Linked DNA regions of Homo sapiens. The protein of the gene in region 1 purifies or fractionates together with the protein of each later gene. This does not show direct contact. Each region holds a gene or a part of one and is shown in the gene's direction. Other genes may lie near its edges.

Evidence for each region.
Region 2: the proteins of TH (region 1) and TAOK2 purify together in Homo sapiens (affinity purification with mass spectrometry; 2 studies listed by BioGRID and IntAct, with this or other methods). This does not show direct contact.
Region 3: the proteins of TH (region 1) and DNAJC12 purify together in Homo sapiens (affinity purification with mass spectrometry; 2 studies listed by BioGRID and IntAct, with this or other methods). This does not show direct contact.
Region 4: the proteins of TH (region 1) and RELL1 purify together in Homo sapiens (affinity purification with mass spectrometry; 2 studies listed by BioGRID and IntAct, with this or other methods). This does not show direct contact.

What each region holds. Positions count from the first base shown.
Region 1 is NC_000011.10:2,168,765-2,176,134, reverse strand, and holds the start of TH (tyrosine 3-monooxygenase), read left to right. Parts: upstream 1-4,319; 5' UTR 4,320-4,348; coding exon 4,349-4,438; coding exon of another isoform or gene 4,439-4,450; intron 4,451-5,364; coding exon of another isoform or gene 5,365-5,445; intron 5,446-6,263; coding exon 6,264-6,485; intron 6,486-7,370. UniProt on the Homo sapiens protein: Catalyzes the conversion of L-tyrosine to L-dihydroxyphenylalanine (L-Dopa), the rate-limiting step in the biosynthesis of catecholamines, dopamine, noradrenaline, and adrenaline. Uses tetrahydrobiopterin and molecular oxygen to convert tyrosine to L-Dopa.
Region 2 is NC_000016.10:29,983,827-29,988,906, forward strand, and holds the end of TAOK2 (serine/threonine-protein kinase TAO2), read left to right. Parts: intron 1-1,386; coding exon 1,387-1,752; intron 1,753-1,831; coding exon 1,832-2,035; intron 2,036-2,438; coding exon 2,439-4,154; 3' UTR 4,155-4,532; downstream 4,533-5,080. UniProt on the Homo sapiens protein: Serine/threonine-protein kinase involved in different processes such as membrane blebbing and apoptotic bodies formation DNA damage response and MAPK14/p38 MAPK stress-activated MAPK cascade.
Region 3 is NC_000010.11:67,828,189-67,835,188, reverse strand, and holds part of DNAJC12 (dnaJ homolog subfamily C member 12), read left to right. Parts: intron 1-7,000. UniProt on the Homo sapiens protein: Probable co-chaperone that participates in the proper folding of biopterin-dependent aromatic amino acid hydroxylases, which include phenylalanine-4-hydroxylase (PAH), tyrosine 3-monooxygenase (TH) and peripheral and neuronal tryptophan hydroxylases (TPH1 and TPH2).
Region 4 is NC_000004.12:37,610,101-37,613,397, reverse strand, and holds the end of RELL1 (RELT-like protein 1 precursor), read left to right. Parts: intron 1-55; 3' UTR 56-2,764; downstream 2,765-3,297. UniProt on the Homo sapiens protein: Induces activation of MAPK14/p38 cascade, when overexpressed. Induces apoptosis, when overexpressed.

The sequences.
Region 1 (7,370 bases):
ACAGCCAGGCCATGGCTAGACCCTGCAGAGCCACAGGGCGATGCCTGTCAGCCAGGGGACCCAGAACACCTCCTGGGCTCCTCCCCAGCACATGGCTGGGCTCCTCCAGCAGGCCTGGATTTGGGAAGGGCCCGTGGTGGGCAAGGCTGGTGCTGGGGAGCAGGCCTGGTGGCCTCAGAGACTCGCCCTGTGGGCGGAGCAGCCTCACAGCCAGGTCGAAGTCAGCACTCTGACCCTGCCCCACGCGGGGAGTGGGCACCAGTCCCAGGGCACAGACGTGCTGGGTGATTAATCTGGGTGATTAAGCCTCGGGCTGAGAGGCTGTTGAGAGAGAACACGCTCCATTGTGGAGCTGGCTCAGCATTCCTTACGGCCATGGTGGCAGGGGCTGTAACCACAGGGACGGCGGAAGTGGTGGAGGGTGGTGGGGTATGGAGGGAAGCCCAGAGGGCTCCGTGCAGGAAGGTGGAGCCTGGTGCAATGGAGGGGACAGCAAGGGCTCCTCAGACCTCTGCGGGGCCCCCACTCCCCTGGTCACCTGTTTTGTCTCTGATCTGGCCTGGGTCGGCCCTCACTCCTGGCCCCACCTCATAGCCCCCCCTGGTGGGGCTCCGCTCCAGCCCTTCTCCTTCCCAGGGGCCAGTATGCTGGCCCCAGGGGTCTCTTGGGGCGTGACCTCGGCCTCCAGAGAACCCTGTCCCAGCTCTGCCCTTCCCTCTGGGGTCTCTGTAGATGGGACGCTGGTCACAGCAGCCTGTCTGATTTGTTCCCTGTGGCCTAGGTTCCTGAGCCCCACAGTGCCAGGGGATGGATGCCACCGGATCTTTGAAAGACCAGTGTCAGGCCGGGCGCAGTGGCTCACGCCTGTAATCCCAGCACTTTGGGAGGCCGAGGTGGGCGGATCACGAAGTCAGGAGATCGAGACCATCCTGGCTAACACAGTGAAACCCCGTCTCCACTAAAAATACAAAAAGTTAGCTGGGCGTGGTGGTGGGCGCCTGTAGTCCCAGCTACTTGGGAGGCTGAGGCAGGAGAATGGCGTGAACCGGGGAGGCGGAGCTTGCAGTGAGCCGAGATCGCGCCATTGCACTCCAGCCTGGGTGACAGAGCGAGACTCGGTCTCAAAAAAAAAGAAAAAAAGGAAAGACCAGTGTCTTGGGAGTTGGGAAACCTGGGCTGGAGACTCACTGCATGACCCCTGAGAAGTTGCACCTCAGAACCTCAGTCCTCGCATCTGCAGAATGGGTCTGTGAACACCTCAGCTGCCCGAACGTGGATGCCGCAGGCTGACCCAGCACTGAGCTCTACCAAGACCAGGGGCCAGCCGTGTGCTCCCTCCAGGCCTGTGCCCAGCGTGGAGAGGCCTCGTCCCGTGGGCGCTGGAGTGGAGCCTTCCTGGTGTTTGTGGACATCTCTGGAGAGGGCCAGAGGCAGGTGGGTGACACGGGGCATGGCTCAATCATGGGTGGTCCAGACTGGAGAGGTACCCTCGGGCTGGGAGCGGGGAGGCTGGCCAGGGTAGACTTTTGGGGCCTCCATGGATACCCTCACCATCTGGAATCGGAGAGGGGCACGGCACAAAGGAGGGCGGGGCCAGGGCCAGGACTGGAGTCGGGGGCACCTCTGTGCCAACAGGGGCCTTGGATCTGGGGTACAGCATGGTTCCCCGGCCCTGAAGGGGCTGGCGTGTGGGACAGGCTTCCCAGGAATGGATAGGCAGGGATGGATGCTGCCTGATTGGGGCGGGAGGCTGGAGGCAGGGCAGGTGCAGGCACCTGAGGGCAGCACTCACCTCCACAGGGGTCCAGGGGCCTCCCCAGCCTCAGCACCTGGCCTGGGCTCCTGCCTCCAGAGAGCCTGGCCCCAAGGAAGAGTCTAGTAAGCTTAGTTCCCATCGGGCTTCCATGAAAGCACAACTGGCCCGGCAGGAAACCGAATTAAAAAGCAATATTTGTATCAGTGGAAGACATTTGCTGAAAGGTTAAATCCACATCCGGCAGTGTGGGCCATGAGCCTCCGGCGTGGTGTTCATCAGGCATGTCTCTCCTCCTGGCCTGGGCACCTGAGCACTGGGGCCGCCCTGGGCAGAGCTGGGGCGGGGTGCTGGGGGGCCTGGAGCTGCCTCACCGAGGGATCCTCAGCAGCCGACCCTGGGGGAGGCAAATGAGACTCTTTCTGGGGACCTTGAGGGGAGCTCGGGGGAGCCATGCAGAGCTTCACCAGGCCTGGACACTGGGCATGGAGGCTGGGCCACCCAAGGGCCATCACCAGGGACTCAGGTGGGTGGGCCTCAGCCCTGGGTGACAGAAGCTCACGGGCCGCAGGGCGAGGCCAGAGGCTGAGCCTTCAGGCTGAGGTCTTGGAGGCAAATCCCTCCAACGCCCTTCTGAGCAGGCACCCAGACCTACTGTGGGCAGGACCCACAGGAGGTGGAGGCCTTTGGGGAACACTGTGGAGGGGCATAGCATCTCCGAGAGAGGACAGGGTCTGCACTGGGTGCTGAGAGACAGCAGGGGCCGAGCGGTAGGCTTCCCTGCCCCCAGGGATGTTCCAGAGGAGCGCAAGGGAGGGGCATTAATATCGTGGCAAGAAAGGGCAGGCATTGCAGAGTGAGCAGCGACGGAACTGGGTTTTGTGGGATGCATAGGAGTTCACCCGGATAAGAGGTGGGTGAGGAATGACACTGCAAACCGGGGATCACGGAGCCCCAAATCCTTCTGGGCCAGGAAGTGGGAAGGGTTGGGGGGTCTTCCCTTTGCTTTGACTGAGCACTCAGCCTGCCTGCAGAGGGCAGCGAGGAGCCACGGAGGGGTGTGGGACAGGGATGCCATGGCTGAAGCAGTTTTAGGAAAGGTCCCAGGGGCTATTGTTGAAGAGAGAACGGGGAGCGGGGAGTCCCACAGCTGACAGGAGCAGAGTGGGCCCTGAGAGATGCCAGCTCTGGCTGCCACAGTGACCAGCCGGGGTAGGCCTTCGAGAAGTCAGGGAGCGTCTAGGGCTTCTGGCTCCTGCTGGGCCCAGGGTGTCATCTTGGGCTGCCAACACCAGAAAGCCCAGCAGATACAGGAAGCCCCAAGCCCTGTCGGAAACGGTTCTTCTCCAGGAGGGACAGCGGTGGCAGCGTTCAGCCGCAGGCCATGCACTCTGGGGCCACGTCCTTCCCTCTGTACAGTCCAGCATTGTCAAGGCAGGCTCTGGCCATCTCTGCTGACCCCAGAGGGATGGGGAGGCCTCCCCTTCCACCAGAAGGGCCAGAAGCCACCCTGGGCAGGGGCATCACTCTCCCTGGGTGGGGCAGCGGCTGGGAGCAGGAGGTGCCAGTGGGCGTGGGCTGGATGCGGGTGCCTGCGGGGCGGACATGGAACTTGGGGGAGGCTCTAGGCTGGGGTTGTCCTCAAGGGAGTTCTCAGGTCACCCCAGGGTCACCCTCAACCCGGGGCCTGGTGGGGTAGAGGAGAAACTGCAAAGGTCTCTCCAAGGGGAAGGCATCAGGGCCCTCAGCACTGAGGGACGTGCGTGCTCTTTAAAGAAGGGGCCACAGGACCCCGAGGGAAGCCAGGAGCTAGCAGTGGGCCATAGAGGGGCTGAGTGGGGTGGGTGGAAGCCGTCCCTGGCCCTGGTCGCCCTGGCAACCCTGGTGGGGACTGTGATGCAGGAGGTGGCAGCCATTTGGAAACGCGTGGCGTCTCCTTAGAGATGTCTTCTTCAGCCTCCCAGGGTCCTCCACACTGGACAGGTGGGCCCTCCTGGGACATTCTGGACCCCACGGGGCGAGCTTGGGAAGCCGCTGCAAGGGCCACACCTGCAGGGCCCGGGGGCTGTGGGCAGATGGCACTCCTAGGAACCACGTCTATGAGACACACGGCCTGGAATCTTCTGGAGAAGCAAACAAATTGCCTCCTGACATCTGAGGCTGGAGGCTGGATTCCCCGTCTTGGGGCTTTCTGGGTCGGTCTGCCACGAGGTTCTGGTGTTCATTAAAAGTGTGCCCCTGGGCTGCCAGAAAGCCCCTCCCTGTGTGCTCTCTTGAGGGCTGTGGGGCCAAGGGGACCCTGGCTGTCTCAGCCCCCCGCAGAGCACGAGCCCCTGGTCCCCGCAAGCCCGCGGGCTGAGGATGATTCAGACAGGGCTGGGGAGTGAAGGCAATTAGATTCCACGGACGAGCCCTTTCTCCTGCGCCTCCCTCCTTCCTCACCCACCCCCGCCTCCATCAGGCACAGCAGGCAGGGGTGGGGGATGTAAGGAGGGGAAGGTGGGGGACCCAGAGGGGGCTTTGACGTCAGCTCAGCTTATAAGAGGCTGCTGGGCCAGGGCTGTGGAGACGGAGCCCGGACCTCCACACTGAGCCATGCCCACCCCCGACGCCACCACGCCACAGGCCAAGGGCTTCCGCAGGGCCGTGTCTGAGCTGGACGCCAAGCAGGCAGAGGCCATCATGGTAAGAGGGCAGGTAGGTGCCCGGCGGCCGCAGTGGACCGGAGCCCAGGGCTGGTGCCAGCTGCCTCTGCTACTCCCCAGCCTGGCTGGCAGCCCCAGGCTCAGGGTCCATGCAAACCCCTGGGACGCGGCGTGGATGTGGAGGCCTGGGCACAGCGGCATCCCCTGTGCCTGGTGTTTGAGTCCCTGTTGGGGGAGGGTGAGGTGATGCCTGTCCCTGTGTGTGCCCCTCTTAGGCCGACCTCTCTCGGGGGTCGTGTGGGTCTCTGTGTCTTGTTTCATCTTGAATCTTAACGATCGGAATGTGGAAACAAATCCATCCAAAAAATCCAAGATGGCCAGAGGTCCCCGGCTGCTGCACCCAGCCCCCACCCTACTCCCACCTGCCCCTGCCTCCCTCTGCCCCAGCTGCCCTAGTCAGCACCCCAACCAGCCTGCCTGCTTGGGGAGGCAGCCCCAAGGCCCTTCCCAGGCTCTAGCAGCAGCTCATGGTGGGGGGTCCTGGGCAAATAGGGGGCAAAATTCAAAGGGTATCTGGGCTCTGGGGTGATTCCCATTGGCCTGTTCCTCCCTTATTTCCCTCATTCATTCATTCATTCATTCATTCATTCACCATGGAGTCTGTGTTCCCTGTGACCTGCACTCGGAAGCCCTGTGTACAGGGGACTGTGTGGGCCAGGCTGGATAATCGGGAGCTTTTCAGCCCACAGGAGGGGTCTTCGGTGCCTCCTTGGGCACTCAGAACCTTGGGCTCCCTGGCACATTTAAAATGGGTTTTTATTTATGGACCTTGATTGAAATGTGGTGTGAGTTGTAGCAGTGTCATTTCCAGGTACCTTCTCAGGGACACAGGGCGCCCTCCCCCGTCCTCCCCCGCCCTCCCCTACCCTCCCCCACCAGGCTCCCCATCAGGCATCCCCTCCCCAGGGCGCCCCGGGGCCCAGCCTCACAGGCTCTCCGTGGCCTGGAACTGCAGCCCCAGCTGCATCCTACACCCCCACCCCAAGGGTAAGTAAGAGGGGACTCTGGGAGGGGCTTCTGCTGCTCCCCTTCATGTTCCACAACCCTGGAAGCTCAGGATGAAGCTGATTCTTCTCTTACAAGGGGCCCAGAGCCTTCTTGGGAGTTCAGCTCCAAGGGATGAGCCCCAGGTGTCTGCCAAGTCCCCCTCTGTCCAGGCCTGGGACGGCTCTGGGATCGAGGGGTCAGAGGCGCTGAGCCCAGGGAGAGACACCTGCGCCCAGAGCTATGACAAAGGGTGGAGGGATGACAAGGCAGCCAGGAGCGGGCGCCTGCGGGGTGGCACAGAGGGGCAGGGCCCGAGGACAGGTGTCCTGATGGGAGTGTGAGAAAGGGTCCCCTGTGCGGCAGCCAGGAGGGTAGGGGGGTTGTTCACTGGGGCCCTGTGGGGGCAGCTCCTTCCTGAGCTGCCGTTCCCTCCCCGGCAGCCGATGCCACTGTCCATCAAGACATCGCCCTCTTCCCATCACTAATCCAGTTAGCGCCTGGCCTGGGGATGAGTGACACAGCGTCTCTGTCTGTCTGCTCGCCACAGAGTGGGGAGCAGGCGAGCACCTTCCCAGCCCCCACTCCTCCCCCACCACCACTGCTTCTGACTGGGCTGCCCCCATCGGGAAGGGCGTGCAATGCCCGCAGGCACCTCGGCTAGCATCTGCCCCAGCAGGCACACAGTAGGCGCTCAAAAACGTGCTCTCATCCCCTGCCTCTGTGTGCCATCAGCGCTGCCCGACTGTGGGACCAGCTGTGGGTGGAGGTCCCCGGGTCTCAGCAGGTGGAGGAGGCATGGGTGCCCCTTGTCCCCACAGTCCCCGCGGTTCATTGGGCGCAGGCAGAGCCTCATCGAGGACGCCCGCAAGGAGCGGGAGGCGGCGGTGGCAGCAGCGGCCGCTGCAGTCCCCTCGGAGCCCGGGGACCCCCTGGAGGCTGTGGCCTTTGAGGAGAAGGAGGGGAAGGCCGTGCTAAACCTGCTCTTCTCCCCGAGGGCCACCAAGCCCTCGGCGCTGTCCCGAGCTGTGAAGGTGTTTGAGGTGAGCTGGTGGCCTTCGTGTCCCTGGGGCAAGTTCACCTGTGGGTGGGGCTGTGTGGGCTGAGTTCCTGACCCCTCTATAGCAGAGGTGCAGCTGCCCAGGCCCCCGAGGCCGGCACAGGATGCAGCAGGGGAGTCTCAGGCCTCAGCTCAGCCCCCATGGCATCTAGCCACACCCCCGTGTTTTTGAGGGATCCTGAGCCCACCCCTAGGGCTGAGGCTACCAAGCCCCACTGTGCCTCTTGCCTTGCCCATCCCCTGGATCCCCCTCACCCACCATTTCCCACGTGGGGGGCTCCCAGCAGGGCAGCACAAGAGGCAGGGGCAGGGCAGTGTGCCCTCTCCCACCCACCCAGCACAGTGGCTCAGGTGACCACTGATTGCATTAGTCACTCCGGCCCCACTGTGCCCCGGGAGGCAGGTGACCCAGCTCCCGGAAGAAGCTCCCAAATGACATTAAAGCCAGACTCCCCGCCCCCCAGCTCCCAGAGCCAGTTTTGTGGCCCGAGGGCCACTGCGACCCACCGCCCTTGTTGCTAGGCAACAGGAGGTGGGGGTGGAGCGGACCCTTCTGGCCAGTGTCCTGGACGCTCAGGGGCCAGTGAGACTCAGGGCCCATCCTACAAACCTGGATGAGGCCACCAGGGTTGGGGGCACCTTCTGACCAGTGGCTGAGGAGCCGGACTGTGTGGCATGGCCTTGGGACACACACACCGAGCCGCCCAGAACCAGGTTAAGCCTCAAGCGGTGACAACTCCTGGTTAGGCACGTAACACAAAATCCAACTTGCCAGTGGCAAACCCTGGCCTGGTGGCCGACAGCTGACCTGAGCCTGGAAGAACGGGATCTGTGTGCTGCTAGCACAAAAGTCAAGGGCAGGGCCTGG
Region 2 (5,080 bases), on another chromosome or scaffold:
CTCTTCCCAGTGGACTGTTTTGGTCATATGGCCCAATCTGGGTGTTTCTAGCTTGGCAAACTCTTACTCCGTTTTTGTGGCCTGACTTAACTGACATCTCCTGGGTTGCCTTCCCAGGCTCCTCTGGTGAGTCAGATGCTTCACAGTTGTGTGCTGGGGAAGCCCAGTGCTGGGGGAGCCCTGTGCCTGTGGAGCCCTGTGCTGGGGGTGTCCAGTGCTGGGGAGCCCTGTGCCGGGGGTGCCCTGTGCTTGGGTGGTCCTGAACAGCATCATGATAGGTTTGCCAGATTCTGTGCCCCAGAGGGCAGGGATGGTGTTCAGATATCTGTCTCATGCCAGCAGTTAGCTCTCAGGCTTACACACAGGCCTGTGTTAACCCTCCCAGCCCCCCTGGGAGGGGAAGGGTAAGATCCCATTGGAGAAATGAGGCACCTGTGGCTCAGAGGGGCCACTTGCCCCAGTGCCTTTGGTGGCTCTCTGCTCCTGTAAGCAGGCCCTTAGTCCTCTCCTAAAATCAACTCATGGCAGTCTTTCTCAGTTCACAGGAAAAAGTGTTTAGGCTTTTCATAAAACATAGTTTTTCATCTATGTTTTTAGATCACGTTCCTGCTGAGCTGCATTTGAGCGTCAACAATCCCCTTAGAGGCCACTGATTAAGTCTAGTATGTTCTTATGGCCTCTGCTTGGTGCTGGTTGTGTTCCAACAATTCTTCAGATCCCATGGTGTTGTGCGGTACTGTGCTGAGAGGTCTTGACTGCCAGGGGCTTGGCTGCCGGGACTAGTTTGAGAGCCACTCATAGAGTCAATTGAGAATGAGACCTGAGATCAGACTTTGGATGAAGGTGTCCAAGCCCAGTGTTCTTGTTATTCCAGCATCTTGTGGCCCCGATCCCACCTCAATACCTGGGGAGTGATAGGCCGACCATGTTTGCTGAAGGGGAAGGAAGCCAACACTTATTAGATAGAGTCCGAACTTACCCCACAGCCCCTATGAGGAGGTATTATTTCCCCATTTAACAGATGAGGGAACTGGTGCTTTGAGAAGTTAACTTACTTGAGATCACATGCTTGGTAAGTGGCAAAGCTGGGATTTGATCCCAGGTATGTCTGACTCACTGTTTCAAATTAGTATGGATTGTTCCTACTTTTGTGCCAGGCCCTGTGCTCGCCACCTTTTATCATTCGGCCACACCAACTTGTGATGTAGATAATATCACCATTATCCAGTTGAGGAAACAGGCTAGAGTGGCCGTGTGTGAGGAAGGTGTTAAATGAGAATGAAACCCATGAGTTGAAAACCCATGCTCTTCCCCACGGAAGACCCCTTGTGTTAATTAACTAGGGGCCAGGCTGAGCCCCAGCTCTCACCCTCTCTCCTTCCCCAGGTCAGCCGTCAGATCCAGGAGCATGAGCAGGACTCTGCGCTGCGGGAGCAGCTGAGCGGCTATAAGCGGATGCGACGACAGCACCAGAAGCAGCTGCTGGCCCTGGAGTCACGGCTGAGGGGTGAACGGGAGGAGCACAGTGCACGGCTGCAGCGGGAGCTTGAGGCGCAGCGGGCTGGCTTTGGGGCAGAGGCAGAAAAGCTGGCCCGGCGGCACCAGGCCATAGGTGAGAAGGAGGCACGAGCTGCCCAGGCCGAGGAGCGGAAGTTCCAGCAGCACATCCTTGGGCAGCAGAAGAAGGAGCTGGCTGCCCTGCTGGAGGCACAGAAGCGGACCTACAAACTTCGCAAGGAACAGCTGAAGGAGGTGAGCTAGGGCTGCTTGGGGGCGGAGCCGATGGCGAGCCAGGTGGGTCCTGACCCTGCTTCCCTCTGCACTCGCCCAGGAGCTCCAGGAGAACCCCAGCACTCCCAAGCGGGAGAAGGCCGAGTGGCTGCTGCGGCAGAAGGAGCAGCTCCAGCAGTGCCAGGCGGAGGAGGAAGCAGGGCTGCTGCGGCGGCAGCGCCAGTACTTTGAGCTGCAGTGTCGCCAGTACAAGCGCAAGATGTTGCTGGCTCGGCACAGCCTGGACCAGGACCTGCTGCGGGAGGTAGGCATCCCAATCTCTGTTCCCCTCCCGCTCACTCGTGGATCCCAGGGACCCACCCTTTTCCATTTTCCTCATTCTTGTCTTCTTTCTCCTTGGCCCTCGAGTGTTACAGTTCAGCTTTGCTTCAGTGCCCCTTTTACTTCTCATCCCCAACAGACCCTGCCAGAATTTCCTTAGGCCTCTTTTCCCAGGCCAGGGAGGAGCTTGCCTCCCCTACACCCTCATCTCCTGCCATCCCCAGCTCCCTCTGCCAAGGAGCCCTGGCCCCTCACTTCCTTGATACTGACCAGGCCCTGGGCCCTGTGTTTCTTCCGCCATCCCCAGCTCCCTCTGCCAAGGAGCCCTGGCCTCTCACTTCCTTGATACTGACCAGGCCCCGGGCCCTGCATTTCTTCTGCCTCAGGACCTGAACAAGAAGCAGACCCAGAAGGACTTGGAGTGTGCACTGCTGCTTCGGCAGCACGAGGCCACGCGGGAGCTGGAGCTGCGGCAGCTCCAGGCCGTGCAGCGCACGCGGGCTGAGCTCACCCGCCTGCAGCACCAGACGGAGCTGGGCAACCAGCTGGAGTACAACAAGCGGCGTGAGCAAGAGTTGCGGCAGAAGCATGCGGCCCAGGTTCGCCAGCAGCCCAAGAGCCTCAAAGTACGTGCAGGCCAGCGCCCCCCGGGCCTTCCACTCCCCATTCCTGGGGCTCTGGGCCCACCCAACACAGGCACCCCTATAGAACAGCAGCCCTGCTCACCTGGCCAGGAGGCAGTCCTGGACCAAAGAATGCTTGGCGAGGAGGAGGAAGCAGTTGGAGAGAGAAGGATTCTGGGAAAGGAAGGGGCCACTTTGGAGCCCAAGCAGCAGAGGATTCTGGGGGAAGAATCAGGAGCCCCTAGTCCCAGTCCACAAAAACATGGGAGCCTGGTTGATGAGGAAGTTTGGGGTCTGCCTGAGGAGATAGAGGAGCTTAGGGTGCCCTCCCTTGTACCCCAGGAGAGGAGCATTGTTGGCCAGGAGGAGGCTGGGACATGGAGCTTGTGGGGGAAGGAGGATGAGAGTCTTCTGGATGAGGAGTTTGAGCTTGGCTGGGTCCAGGGCCCAGCACTGACTCCCGTCCCTGAGGAGGAGGAAGAAGAGGAAGAGGGGGCTCCGATTGGGACCCCTAGGGATCCTGGAGATGGTTGTCCTTCCCCCGACATCCCTCCTGAACCCCCTCCAACACACCTGAGGCCCTGCCCTGCCAGCCAGCTCCCTGGACTCCTGTCCCATGGCCTCCTGGCCGGCCTCTCCTTTGCAGTGGGGTCCTCCTCTGGCCTCCTGCCCCTCCTGCTGCTGCTGCTGCTTCCATTGCTGGCAGCCCAGGGTGGGGGTGGCCTGCAGGCAGCGCTGCTGGCCCTTGAGGTGGGGCTGGTGGGTCTGGGGGCCTCCTACCTGCTCCTTTGTACAGCCCTGCACCTGCCCTCCAGTCTTTTCCTACTCCTGGCCCAGGGTACCGCACTGGGGGCCGTCCTGGGCCTGAGCTGGCGCCGAGGCCTCATGGGTGTTCCCCTGGGCCTTGGAGCTGCCTGGCTCTTAGCTTGGCCAGGCCTAGCTCTACCTCTGGTGGCTATGGCAGCGGGGGGCAGATGGGTGCGGCAGCAGGGCCCCCGGGTGCGCCGGGGCATATCTCGACTCTGGTTGCGGGTTCTGCTGCGCCTGTCACCCATGGCCTTCCGGGCCCTGCAGGGCTGTGGGGCTGTGGGGGACCGGGGTCTGTTTGCACTGTACCCCAAAACCAACAAGGATGGCTTCCGCAGCCGCCTGCCCGTCCCTGGGCCCCGGCGGCGTAATCCCCGCACCACCCAACACCCATTAGCTCTGTTGGCAAGGGTCTGGGTCCTGTGCAAGGGCTGGAACTGGCGTCTGGCACGGGCCAGCCAGGGTTTAGCATCCCACTTGCCCCCGTGGGCCATCCACACACTGGCCAGCTGGGGCCTGCTTCGGGGTGAACGGCCCACCCGAATCCCCCGGCTACTACCACGCAGCCAGCGCCAGCTAGGGCCCCCTGCCTCCCGCCAGCCACTGCCAGGGACTCTAGCCGGGCGGAGGTCACGCACCCGCCAGTCCCGGGCCCTGCCCCCCTGGAGGTAGCTGACTCCAGCCCTTCCAGCCCAAATCTAGAGCATTGAGCACTTTATCTCCCACGACTCAGTGAAGTTTCTCCAGTCCCTAGTCCTCTCTTTTCACCCACCTTCCTCAGTTTGCTCACTTACCCCAGGCCCAGCCCTTCGGACCTCTAGACAGGCAGCCTCCTCAGCTGTGGAGTCCAGCAGTCACTCTGTGTTCTCCTGGCGCTCCTCCCCTAAGTTATTGCTGTTCGCCCGCTGTGTGTGCTCATCCTCACCCTCATTGACTCAGGCCTGGGGCCAGGGGTGGTGGAGGGTGGGAAGAGTCATGTTTTTTTTCTCCTCTTTGATTTTGTTTTTCTGTCTCCCTTCCAACCTGTCCCCTTCCCCCCACCAAAAAAAGAAAAAGACAAACACAAATAAAATATCTGAGCGGAACTGTGCCTTTGGCCCAGGCTGCCTCTGTCTGCTTTGTCCTGCCGCCTAGCCTCCCCGGTATGCCCCCAGGCTGACCCTCGGCCCGGCTCCATGACCTCTTCACCCCATCTCCGTTATCTCAGCCCCCTCACTCCTCCAGCCTCATGCTCTCTGCCTTCATAGCTTCATTGCACCATGACCACCACCGGCTCTGGGGTCTGGGCCCCTGTAGAACTTCACCGAACTTCTTGGTCCCACAGAGCGCCTGTTTGCGGGTTCCTTCCAGAGGTCTTAGTTTCCAGGCCCTTGGTCTCCTCATCCCTTGCCTTTTCTCCCAACCATGGCTGCAGGGGACCAAATTGCTCTCCTGCATCAGGCATTACCCTAGTGGGTTGGGGGACGGGGCTGCAGACCCTCCACAGTAGGGGGTGCTGAGCTGGGGGCAACCAGGCGGAGTATGAAGGCTGTGGCAGCAGGATTGAGTGTGGGCCTGGAGTGGGAGCTGAGTGTGTGAGGGGCCGGGCTGGAATGCGG
Region 3 (7,000 bases), on another chromosome or scaffold:
AATTGAATTGAGACACCCACATAATACTTTTGCTTTGGTATATAGTTCTTACAATTTAAAGTTTGTGCTAGAAATTGATTAAAGTAAAATTATGTATTTTCTAATGGTTCTAGAGCAGTAATCCTGAAGCTTTTCCTTCTCAGAGAGTTTTTAAAATTATCTTTCAGAAATTGAAAATACAACCATGAAAACAAGCAATGAGACTAATTTTCTAGTTTACATAATGACATATATAAATTATGGGAGGATTTCCATGTTATATAGAAAACAATATATTCCCCATTTCAAAACAATTTAACAAAGATTGATTCCAAGACAGTTAGCCTTTCTCCCTATATTGGATTTTTTTTTTAAATTTTTGTTTCTTTGAGATGAAGTCTCACTGTGTTGCCCAGGCTGGAGTGCAGTGGCAGGATCTCAGCTCACTGCAGCCTCCTGGGTTCAAGTGATTCTCCTGCTTCAGCCTCCTGAGTAGCAGGGATTATACGTGCATGCCACTATGCCCAGCTAATTTTTGTATTTTTGTACAGATGAGCTTTCACCATGTTGTCCAGGCTGGCCTTGAACTCCTGACCTCAAGTGATCCGCCGCCTTGGCCTCCCAAAGTGTTGGGATTACAGGCATGAGCCACCGCGCCCGGCCTCTATTCCTCAGTTTTCTAACCTGTAAATGGAAGTAAATAGTACCCACCTCACAGAGTTGTGGGGATTAAATAATACGTGATATATAAAGTACTTTGAACAGTGCCTGGTGCAGAGCGCTAAGTTGTGGTGGTTGTGGTTGTGGCTGTTGTTTTGGCCCCCACAGTGTTACTGTGCACTTGGAACTTAGTACACTTATCCTATCCTTGAGTTTGCATTATTTTTAAGATGTTTTATTTTGCAATAATTTTTGACTTACAGAAAAGTTGTAAAAATAGTACAACAGAGTTCCTATATACCCTTAACCCAGCTTCCCTTTATGTTAACATCATACCTAATGAAAGTATAATGATCAAAATCAGAAATTAAAAAAAATTATAGCTCTGAGGCATTTTATTATAAAAGCTTGGTACTCATATACATAAACTAAAATGAACTTAAAATTCATCATACATTTACTTCATTTTTTAGCTTGACCTTCTAGTAAATTTCTAGCTTCACTGATTTTGGCTGCTATGATTTAAGAGTATAATTTATCAATGAGCATCTCTTATTTTCCCTTTTTTGGCAGTAGGGCTTACCCCTAGCATTAATGCTGCTTCTTGTTTTGTCATTTTGGGTTCAAACTCACCTCAGTAATAGCCACCACTGAAGGCAGATTTTGATAGACTTTGAAAAACTTGCTTTACTTGAGGCTCCATGTGCTCCATGGCTTGCAAAACATAATGGCCTGCAAATCCTGCAGCAGCAATGGTCAGTCCAACTGCTACCATTGTACTGGCCATGGCTATAGCTGGGCTCCCTTGCCTCTACCGAGAGCCTGGATCATCCCAGCCCAGAGATCATGGCCCAAAACTGCACACCTTTACCAGAGTGACGCAGCCACCGATCGCAAGCACAAACCACCAAAAAATCAGAAAATTAACATTGCTATAGTTAACCCTACCATGGTCCAGCAAACATTTTTTTGTAAAGGACTAGATAGACAGAGTCAGGACTAGAATGAGGCAAGTAGGGTGTGTAGGATGCAAAATTTAAGGAGGCACTAACATTTAGGGTTGCGCATGTACAGAAATTTGAGAGAGACAGAGAGAGAGAGAGAGAGAGAGGGAGAGGGAGAGAGAGAGGATATTTCCTTAGACCTAGGTGTCCTGCTTGCCTCACCTAATGCTGATCCTGGCATAGCAAATATTTTAGGCTTTGCAGGCCTTACAGTCTCTGTCCTAACTACTCAGCTCTGCCATTGGAGAAAACAGCCATAGACAATATAAGTGAATGATCTTGGCTGTCTTCCAATAAAACTTTAATTAAAAAACAGGCAGCAGCAGGCCAGAGTCAATCAATCCCTGATCTAAATTATAAGTCTTATCTAATTTCATCAGTTTTCCTAATAATGCCCTTTTTCTGTTCTAGGATCCAAGCCAGGATCCCTTATTACGCTTAACCCTTAATGACCTCCAATCTGATGCTTTCTTCTACCTTCTTTGTCTTTCATGACCTGGACAGTATGAAGACTACTGTCAGTATTTTGTAGAATGTCCCTCAATTTGACTTTGATATTTTCTCATGATTAGATTGAGGTTATGCATTTTTGGAAAGAACTCCTCAGAAGTGATGTTGTGCCTTTCTTAGTATCTCATGTGGGGGTGCATGAAATGGATGTGCTTTATTGACCTTGAGCACTTCGTTAAGGTGATGTCTGTCAGGTGTCTTCTGCTAGGTTTTTCCAAGGTAGGGTTATTATTTTTCCTTTTGTAATTAACAAATATCTTGGGGAAGGTACTTTGAGACTGTCCTGTTTCTTCTCAAACTTTTACTCACTAAGTTTAGCATCCTTCAGTGGATCTTGCCTGTAACAGTTACTACTATGGTGTTTGCCTAATGGTGACTTTCTTTTTCTCATTAATTTTACATTTATTAGTATTCTACAGTAAGGAAATTCTTCAGTAAGGAAAAACTATCCCTTCTCCCACATTTATTTGTTTATTTGGCTTAGTTTTATCACTATCAATTAATAGTTATTGTATTTTAAGTGTTATAACCCAAATATTACCATTATTTATTTTGTGTCTCAAATTGTTTCTATGCCTCATGACTTAATTAATTATCATTTGATTAGAGTAATGTAGGAGGATCTCTCATTTATTTCAGGGATATTGCTAATATCTGGAATTTTGTGGGAAAAATCTAGTTTTAAACTGAGTGAATTAAAATAATATATATCAATTAAATCAGTATTAAAATGAATCTTCTTTTCTTTCTTTTCTTTTTTTTTTTTTTTTGAGATGGAGTTTCACTCTTGTTGCCCAGGCTGGAGTGCAATGACGCAATCTGGGCTCACTGCAACCTTCGCCTCCCGGGTTCAAGCAATTCTCCTGCCTCAGCCCCCCGAGTAGCTGGGATTACAGGCATGCGCCACCACACCCAGCTAATTTTTTGTATTTAGTAGAGATGGGGTTTCACCATGTTGGTCAGGCCGGTCTCAGACTCCTGACCTCAGGTGATCTGCCCACCTCGGCCTCTCAAAGTGTTGGGATTACAGGCGTAAGCCACTGTGCCCAGCCAAATCTTCTCTTTTCTGCAGCACATTTTGCATCATATGAATTTCCATCACTGGAATCAATTCACTCTTAATGAATTAGCCATAATTTTCAGAAAGCTCCTATTACACTATAGTTATGTTACTTGAAGAACATCTGTCAGTCTATGATCAAGTATTTATTGAACATTTCCTGTTGGGCCAGTACTAGAAGTGACATAGGGTGGGGAACAAAACAAAACAAAACAAAAAGGTGAGACATGATGCTAGTGTATAAAGAACCTGGTATCCAATTGAGGAGCCAAAGCTAATACACAGGAAACAATTTGAGAACAATTAAGTATTGTGCTCTGTACTGTCTATAAGTGCAGCAGAAATTAAAGAAAGAATATCTGAATAGACTTCAGAAAGAGATGGGGCTTGAAATGGCCTTACTAGATGGCCATAATTTTAATGCACTGTGGGAGAGACAGGGCATTTGTATGGCTAGGAAATCTTGGAGAATATTCATCCAAGTGGGAATTGGATTAGTCTCCATGGCACACTGGAGTATTTCCTTGCTTAGACAAAAATATTTTGCTAGCAGAATATGGAAAAGATAAGTTTCTAAGTTTTAAAATTTAAGTTCTAAAATTAATATATGTTCAATAAGGAAATGTGGAATACAAAGAAAGCACAAATAAAAATGTTAACCTACATGTTTAACATTTTGGAGTATGACTTATACATGTTAATTATCTGTGCATATATGCTATATCTGTATATGTATATAAATAAGTAAATGCATATGTGTATATGTATGTACGTATGTATGTATTTTTGAGACAGATTCTCACCCTGTGGCCCAGACTGGAGTGCAATGGTGCGATCTCAGCTCACTGCAACCTCTGCCTCCCAGGCTTAAGCGATTCTTGTGTCTCAGCCTCCCAAGTAGCTGGGACTACAGGCACGTGCTACCACACCCGGCTAATTTTTTGTATCTTTAGTAGAGATGAGGTTTCACCATGTTGGTCAGCCTGGTCTCCAATTCCTGACCTCGTGATCCGCCCACCTTGGCCTCCCAAAGTGCTGGGATTACAGGCGTGAGCCACCACACCTGGCCTATGTGTATGTATTTATATGTGTATTTTTGTATGTATTTGGAGTCAGACTGCATGGGTTCAGTTCCTAGATGTGCTACTTATTAGCTGTGTGACCTTGGGAGAATTCCTTAATTTTTCTATGTCTTGATTTCCTAATCTGCAAAATGAGAATAATGATAGTATTAACCTCATACAGTTGTGGGAATTAAATGAAACATTCTATGTAAAGTGCTTAGAAAAGTGCCTGGCACATATTAAGTATCAAAAAATTTATTTATTTATTTATTTATTTATTTATTTATTTATTTATTTATTTTTTGAGACGGAGTCTTGCTCTGTCGCCCAGGCTGGAGTGCAGTGGCGGGATCTCAGCTCACTGCAAGCTCCGCCTCCCGGGTTCACGCCGTTCTTCTGCCTCAGCCTCCTGAATAGCTGTGATTACAGGCGCCTGCCACCACGCCCAGCTAATTTTTTATATTTTTAGTAGAGACGGGGTTTCACTGTGTTAGCCAGGATGGTCTCAATCTCCTGACCTCGTGATCCGCCCGCCTCAGCCTCCCAAAGTGCTGGGATTACAAGAGTGAGCCACAGCGCCCGGCCTATTTATTTATTTTTTGAGACGGAGTCTTGCTCTGTCACTCAGGCTGGAGTGCAGTGGCGCGATCTCAGCTCACTGCAACCTCCGCCTCCCAGGCTCAAGCGATTCTTGTGTCTCAGCCTCCCAAGTAGCTGGGACTACAGGCCATGCCAGGCTAATTTTTTAATTTTTAGTAGAGACAGGGTTTTGCCATTTGGCAATTGGCCAGGCTGTTCTTGAACTCCTGACCTCAGGTGATCTGCCCGCCTCAGCATCCCAAAGTGCTGGGATTACAGGTGTGAGCCACTGCACCCAGGTCAATAAATTTAAAATGATAATAATTATCATTATTATATACATATATAGTTACATAATCCCTTTTGAGATAAGACATGGATTTAAATTGCACATAATACTTACATATTATTATATGCAGTATAACATAATATATTGCACATATCTTACCTTTTCTCATAGAAATATTTAAATTTTCTCAGGTTGTTAAAAATCTTTTATGACAAGATAATTTTTTAAATGAGTAAAGTATTCTAACCTACAGTTACATTACAATCAACTATAACAAACATCCTATTATTGGACATATAGGTTGTAAGAATTAAAGAAAGAGGAGAGAAACACAAAGGGCGGCTTGACAGTCAACAGGGACAGATTTGTTTATTTATTTTTATTTTTTATTTTTTATTTTTTTGAGACGGAGTCTCACTCTGTCGCCCAGGCTGGAGTACAGTGGCGCAATCTCGGCTCACTGCAAGCTCCGCCTCCCAGATTCACGCCATTCTCCTTCCTCAGCCTCCGGAGTAGCTGGAACTACAGGCGGCCGCCACCACGCCCGGCTAATTTTTTTGTATTTTTAGTAGAGACAGGGTTTCACTGTTTTAGCCAGGATGGTCTCGATCTCTTGACCTCGTGATCCACCCGCCTCGGCCTCCCCAAGTGCTGGGATTACAAGCGTGAGCCACCGCACCCGGCCTGACAGGTTTATTTTGAATAAACCTGAGAGGGGCGGCTGGCTGAGTTAGGTTAGAGACACACTCTCCTACAGACTAAGAGTTTCTAAGGCTTCAGGGTGGGAGAGTTTATCAGAGGCTTGGACTGCTTCTCTGTCTCTTTGTTGTGCTTTTCTGGGAGGGAGAGTTGTGTGTCTGTTCCCATCCATCTTTCTGCAGCTGTAGGCATACCCCGCCCGAGTCTGCTTTTTGCTTCCCTATCTTGGTACACCTGAAGGGAAAGGAATGTGCTTATTAAGTAAGGCTCACTGTTTTACTGGGGCCCATTTTGTGAGGGTGAAGTTTGGCAGTTGCTCCAGAGACTTTCCCCCCACCTCCCTCTGCGCCCGAGCTGTCTTATTTGTGTTTTACTGTCTGCTCTTTCTGGCTGCTTGTAGTTCGAACAGAAGTGATTTCCTTGAAATGCATGAGACTAGAAAGGGAACTGGAATTTAAAGTGGCGATGTCTGTCTGAGTTGATGGTGCTCTTGCTCTATCATAGGTTTTTGTTTAAAATTTATATTTTATTCTTGGACCTTCTTACAGCTATTCTTTTCTTACCTCTGATTATCTCCTTAGACAAATTCCTAGAATTGGAATTGTTGAATCAAAGGCTAGGAAATAAATTAAAGGCTCTTCATATATATGTGTGTATATATATATATATAGAGAGAGAGAGAGAGAGAAAATAGAATATTTAACACTTTAAAATTTAAAAACAAGTCTAGATCTCAGTTTTATTTGTTATATAAGCAGGTTATGGTGACTGATGGTTAAAGACAGCACCCAGGAAGAGGAAACACATAGTTAATTACAGTTCCTAACAGGAAGTCATCTTTTCCTATTATTCGAAGGTGTTCTCAGAAGTTTAACAAAGAAAATAATAGTTATTAGTCTGGGTTTTATACATATGCCTATCTAATACAGCCTGACTTTGATTGTAAAAGTGAAGACATTCCTTATGAGAATTGACTAAGGATGACATGGAGCTGATCTACATATAGAGAGATAGATACACACATATATCTATATATAGAGAGATAGATACACACACATATATATACACACACATACAAACATATATGTCTCAATTTTTTTCAAGAAAGTCTATACCTATTTACATCCTCGCCAGCAGAGCATGAATGTTAATTTCT
Region 4 (3,297 bases), on another chromosome or scaffold:
GTGATATGATGCTTACCCTTGGTTAAAGATCTACATTTTTTGTTTTCTCTTGCAGCAATGACTTGACTTGAAGAGCTCTAAGAGACTGAAAACTTATATGAAGTTGCCTTGGGAATATTTTTATATATTTTATACAGTTTCTATCATGGAGTCAGCAGGCACGTGGATAAAACCTAAAAGGGAATATTATTGCTGTGCCATATACAGAATTCAGTTTGCTTTGAAACAAGTTTTGGTTGAAAGAGTCTGTTGAAAATTTTATTATACTTCCAGGGAAGGAAAGAGCTGTTTTTATCTTCTTAACCACTCCCAGCCTCTACTCTTCCCAGCCCCTAATCCCAGGCCTTGGTGTACACACTGTAGTTTTTCCATTATGATGAGTATGTGCAGTGATACTATTCATGTACAGTCTGAGCTTATGCTCAGGGGTGTGTGTGTATATGTGTATGCATGTGTGCACGTGAGTGTGTGTTTCTTTTTCCAGTTCCTGCATCCTATTTTGACACTGGTTGTAAGAAGATCTTGATACATACAGGTTAGCTGTTACAAAAGATAAAAGATGAATCTTCAGTGGTAAAAGCTCAGTGGAAATAATCTAGTTAGCCCTGAGGAGTTGATTCCCCAAGGGACCATGGAGTCAGATGGGACCAGATGCTAGACTTTGGATTCCTTGACCACAAATTCAGCATTAACTCCTGCCACCACCATGTCACTCCTACAGCACTTACACATTTTGAGAAGGTTTTTTTTTTTTTTTTTTTGAGGCAGAGTCTCGCTGTGTCCCCTAGGCTGGAGTGCAGTGGCACAATCTCCACTCACCTCAATCTCCACCTCCCCAGGTTCAAGCGATTCTCCTGCCTCAGCCTCCCAAGTAGCTGGGATTACAGGCATGCACCACCACGCTCGACTAATTTTTGTATTTTTAGTAGAGACGGGGTATCACTATATTGGTCAGGCTGGTCTTGAACTCCTGACCTCAGGCGATCTACCCGCCTCGGCCTCCCAAAGTGCTGGGAATATAGGCGTGGGCCACTGCACCCGGTTTTTTGTTTTTTTTTGTTTTTTTTTTTTTTTTAACCTTTAGCTGAGCGATTCTTGGTTAATCCATTGAATAAAGGAGAAAATGGTTGAAAGTCACACACACACAAATTTGTTTGGACAACCCAAGGCCAAAACAAAAGAACCCTGCTTCTCTCTTTTTTTTTTTTTTTTTTTTTTTTTGAGGCGGAGTCTCGCTCTGTCGCCCAGGCTGGAGTGCAGTGGCACGATCTCAGCTCACTGCAAGCTCCACCTTCTGAGTTCACGCCATTCTCCTGCCTCAGCCTCCTGAGTAGCTGGGACTACAGGTGCCCACCACCACGCTTGGCTTATTTTTTTTGTATTTTTAGGAGAGACGGGGTTTCACCGCATTAGCGAAGATGGTCTCGATCTCCTGACCTCGTGATCCACCCGCCTCGGCCTCCCAAAGTTCTGGGATTACAGGCTTGAGCCACTGCGCCCGGCCTAGAACCCTGCTTCTCATATAAGATGGGCCTGCACCTACCTCTGGCATGTTTTTCTTTGTGTATTTCCTGTTTTTCATCCTGTAACTAATGCTCATTATTTAAAACACTCCAGTTACTTTTCCCTTTAGGCCTGGCAAACTTTTCTTTTTCTTTTTTTTTTTTATAACTGTACATTTTACAAAACACCTGAAAGGACCCAGAGGCATAAATAGTATTACATGATTTATGGTAGCTCTGGGGTGAGCTGTGGGGGAGGCCAGTTACAAGGTCTCCAAGACCCGCCTCCATGTCAGTGTTGGGGGGTGCCTTGAGCACTTCTTTTATTTCATATAGGAAAATGCACATCTTTCATTTGTCTCCCAAAAGATGATTTCCATAAAAATATACTTCAAAGTATTTACTGTACATAGACTTCAATGATTTTATTTCCAGCATCAAACTAAACATTTCTAACCTTTTAAATAAATGGGGAATTTAGTTTCATGAGAATTTTTACTGACAACTAATAAACACTGTATGTGTACATATTCATATACACTGTGGACTGGAGAAAGTCAGTATGGAAATAAATTTCACTGAGATCCAGAAAGTAGCAATATAGGACTTTTAGGGGTATGTATTAGTGTAAATAATATATGTGCAGTCTAGGCTAATCATTTTAATTAAAAACAAATAAGCATACTTTTTTGCTTTAAAAATATGCCCTCAAAATGGTGGGGGATAAAATGTAAGATATTCTTTAGCTTTAATTATTTTTCCATCTTATTCAAGTCAGAGCACTTTTTTTTAAATAGCAATACAACAGGCAAGAGAATACTCAAAAATATTTAAAACTGTATTGATACCAAGAGTATGTTTTAAATATTTTCTAATAAATACTTGAGCGGTTTTTGTCTGGCAGGCTTCCAAATTTGCCAAAATTAAGCGTTCAGTATTTTCAACACATACGCTTTTTACTGGTTTATACTGAACTATCTGATGAGAATTCCTGTGTTCCCAAAGCAACTGATGTTTACAGGTCTTGTGTTACTCCTCCTCCTTTCTAAGGATGAGGGAATCCACAACAGACTTTCTCTAGAAAACACTAATGATGGACAACTTTTTGGTGTCATCAATGAGTTGGCTACTACCTTGATGTAAAAATTTGTAAGGAAAATTTTCACCATTTCGAGTGTCAAGTGTATTTTTAACTGTCTGGTTTGTACTTTTATGACTTTTGTACTACCAAAGCGGAGTTAAAAATAAAAATGTTAAACGCAGTGTGTTGTCTTGTGGGTGATCCAATTATTGGCGCCTTGTACACTGGAAATACAGTCGTGGCAGTATAATTATTGAGCTTAATTTTTTACAGTGCTGAATTTCTTGTGTCTTGAAATATCAAGTGATCACTTGGCTGACTTTCCTCATGAGATTTCCCCTCCTGCAGTACCCCTTCCCCTAACACAGGCATACTTTGGAGATACTGTGGGTTCAGCCCCGGCCTACTGCAGTAAAGCAAATATTGCAATCAAGCCAGCCACATGAGCTTTTTGGTTTCCCACTGCATATAAAAAAGTTATATTTATACTATACTATAGTCTATTAAGTATATGCAATAATATTCTGTCAAAAAACATACATACCTTAATTTAAAATACTTTTTATTGCTAAAAAAAAATACGATAATCTGAGCCTTCAGCAAGTCATAATCTTTTTGCTGCTGCAGGATCTTGCCTCAATGTTGAAGGCTACTGACCAGGGTGGTGGTTACTGAAGGTTGGGGTGGCTGTGGCAATTTCTTAAAATAACACAG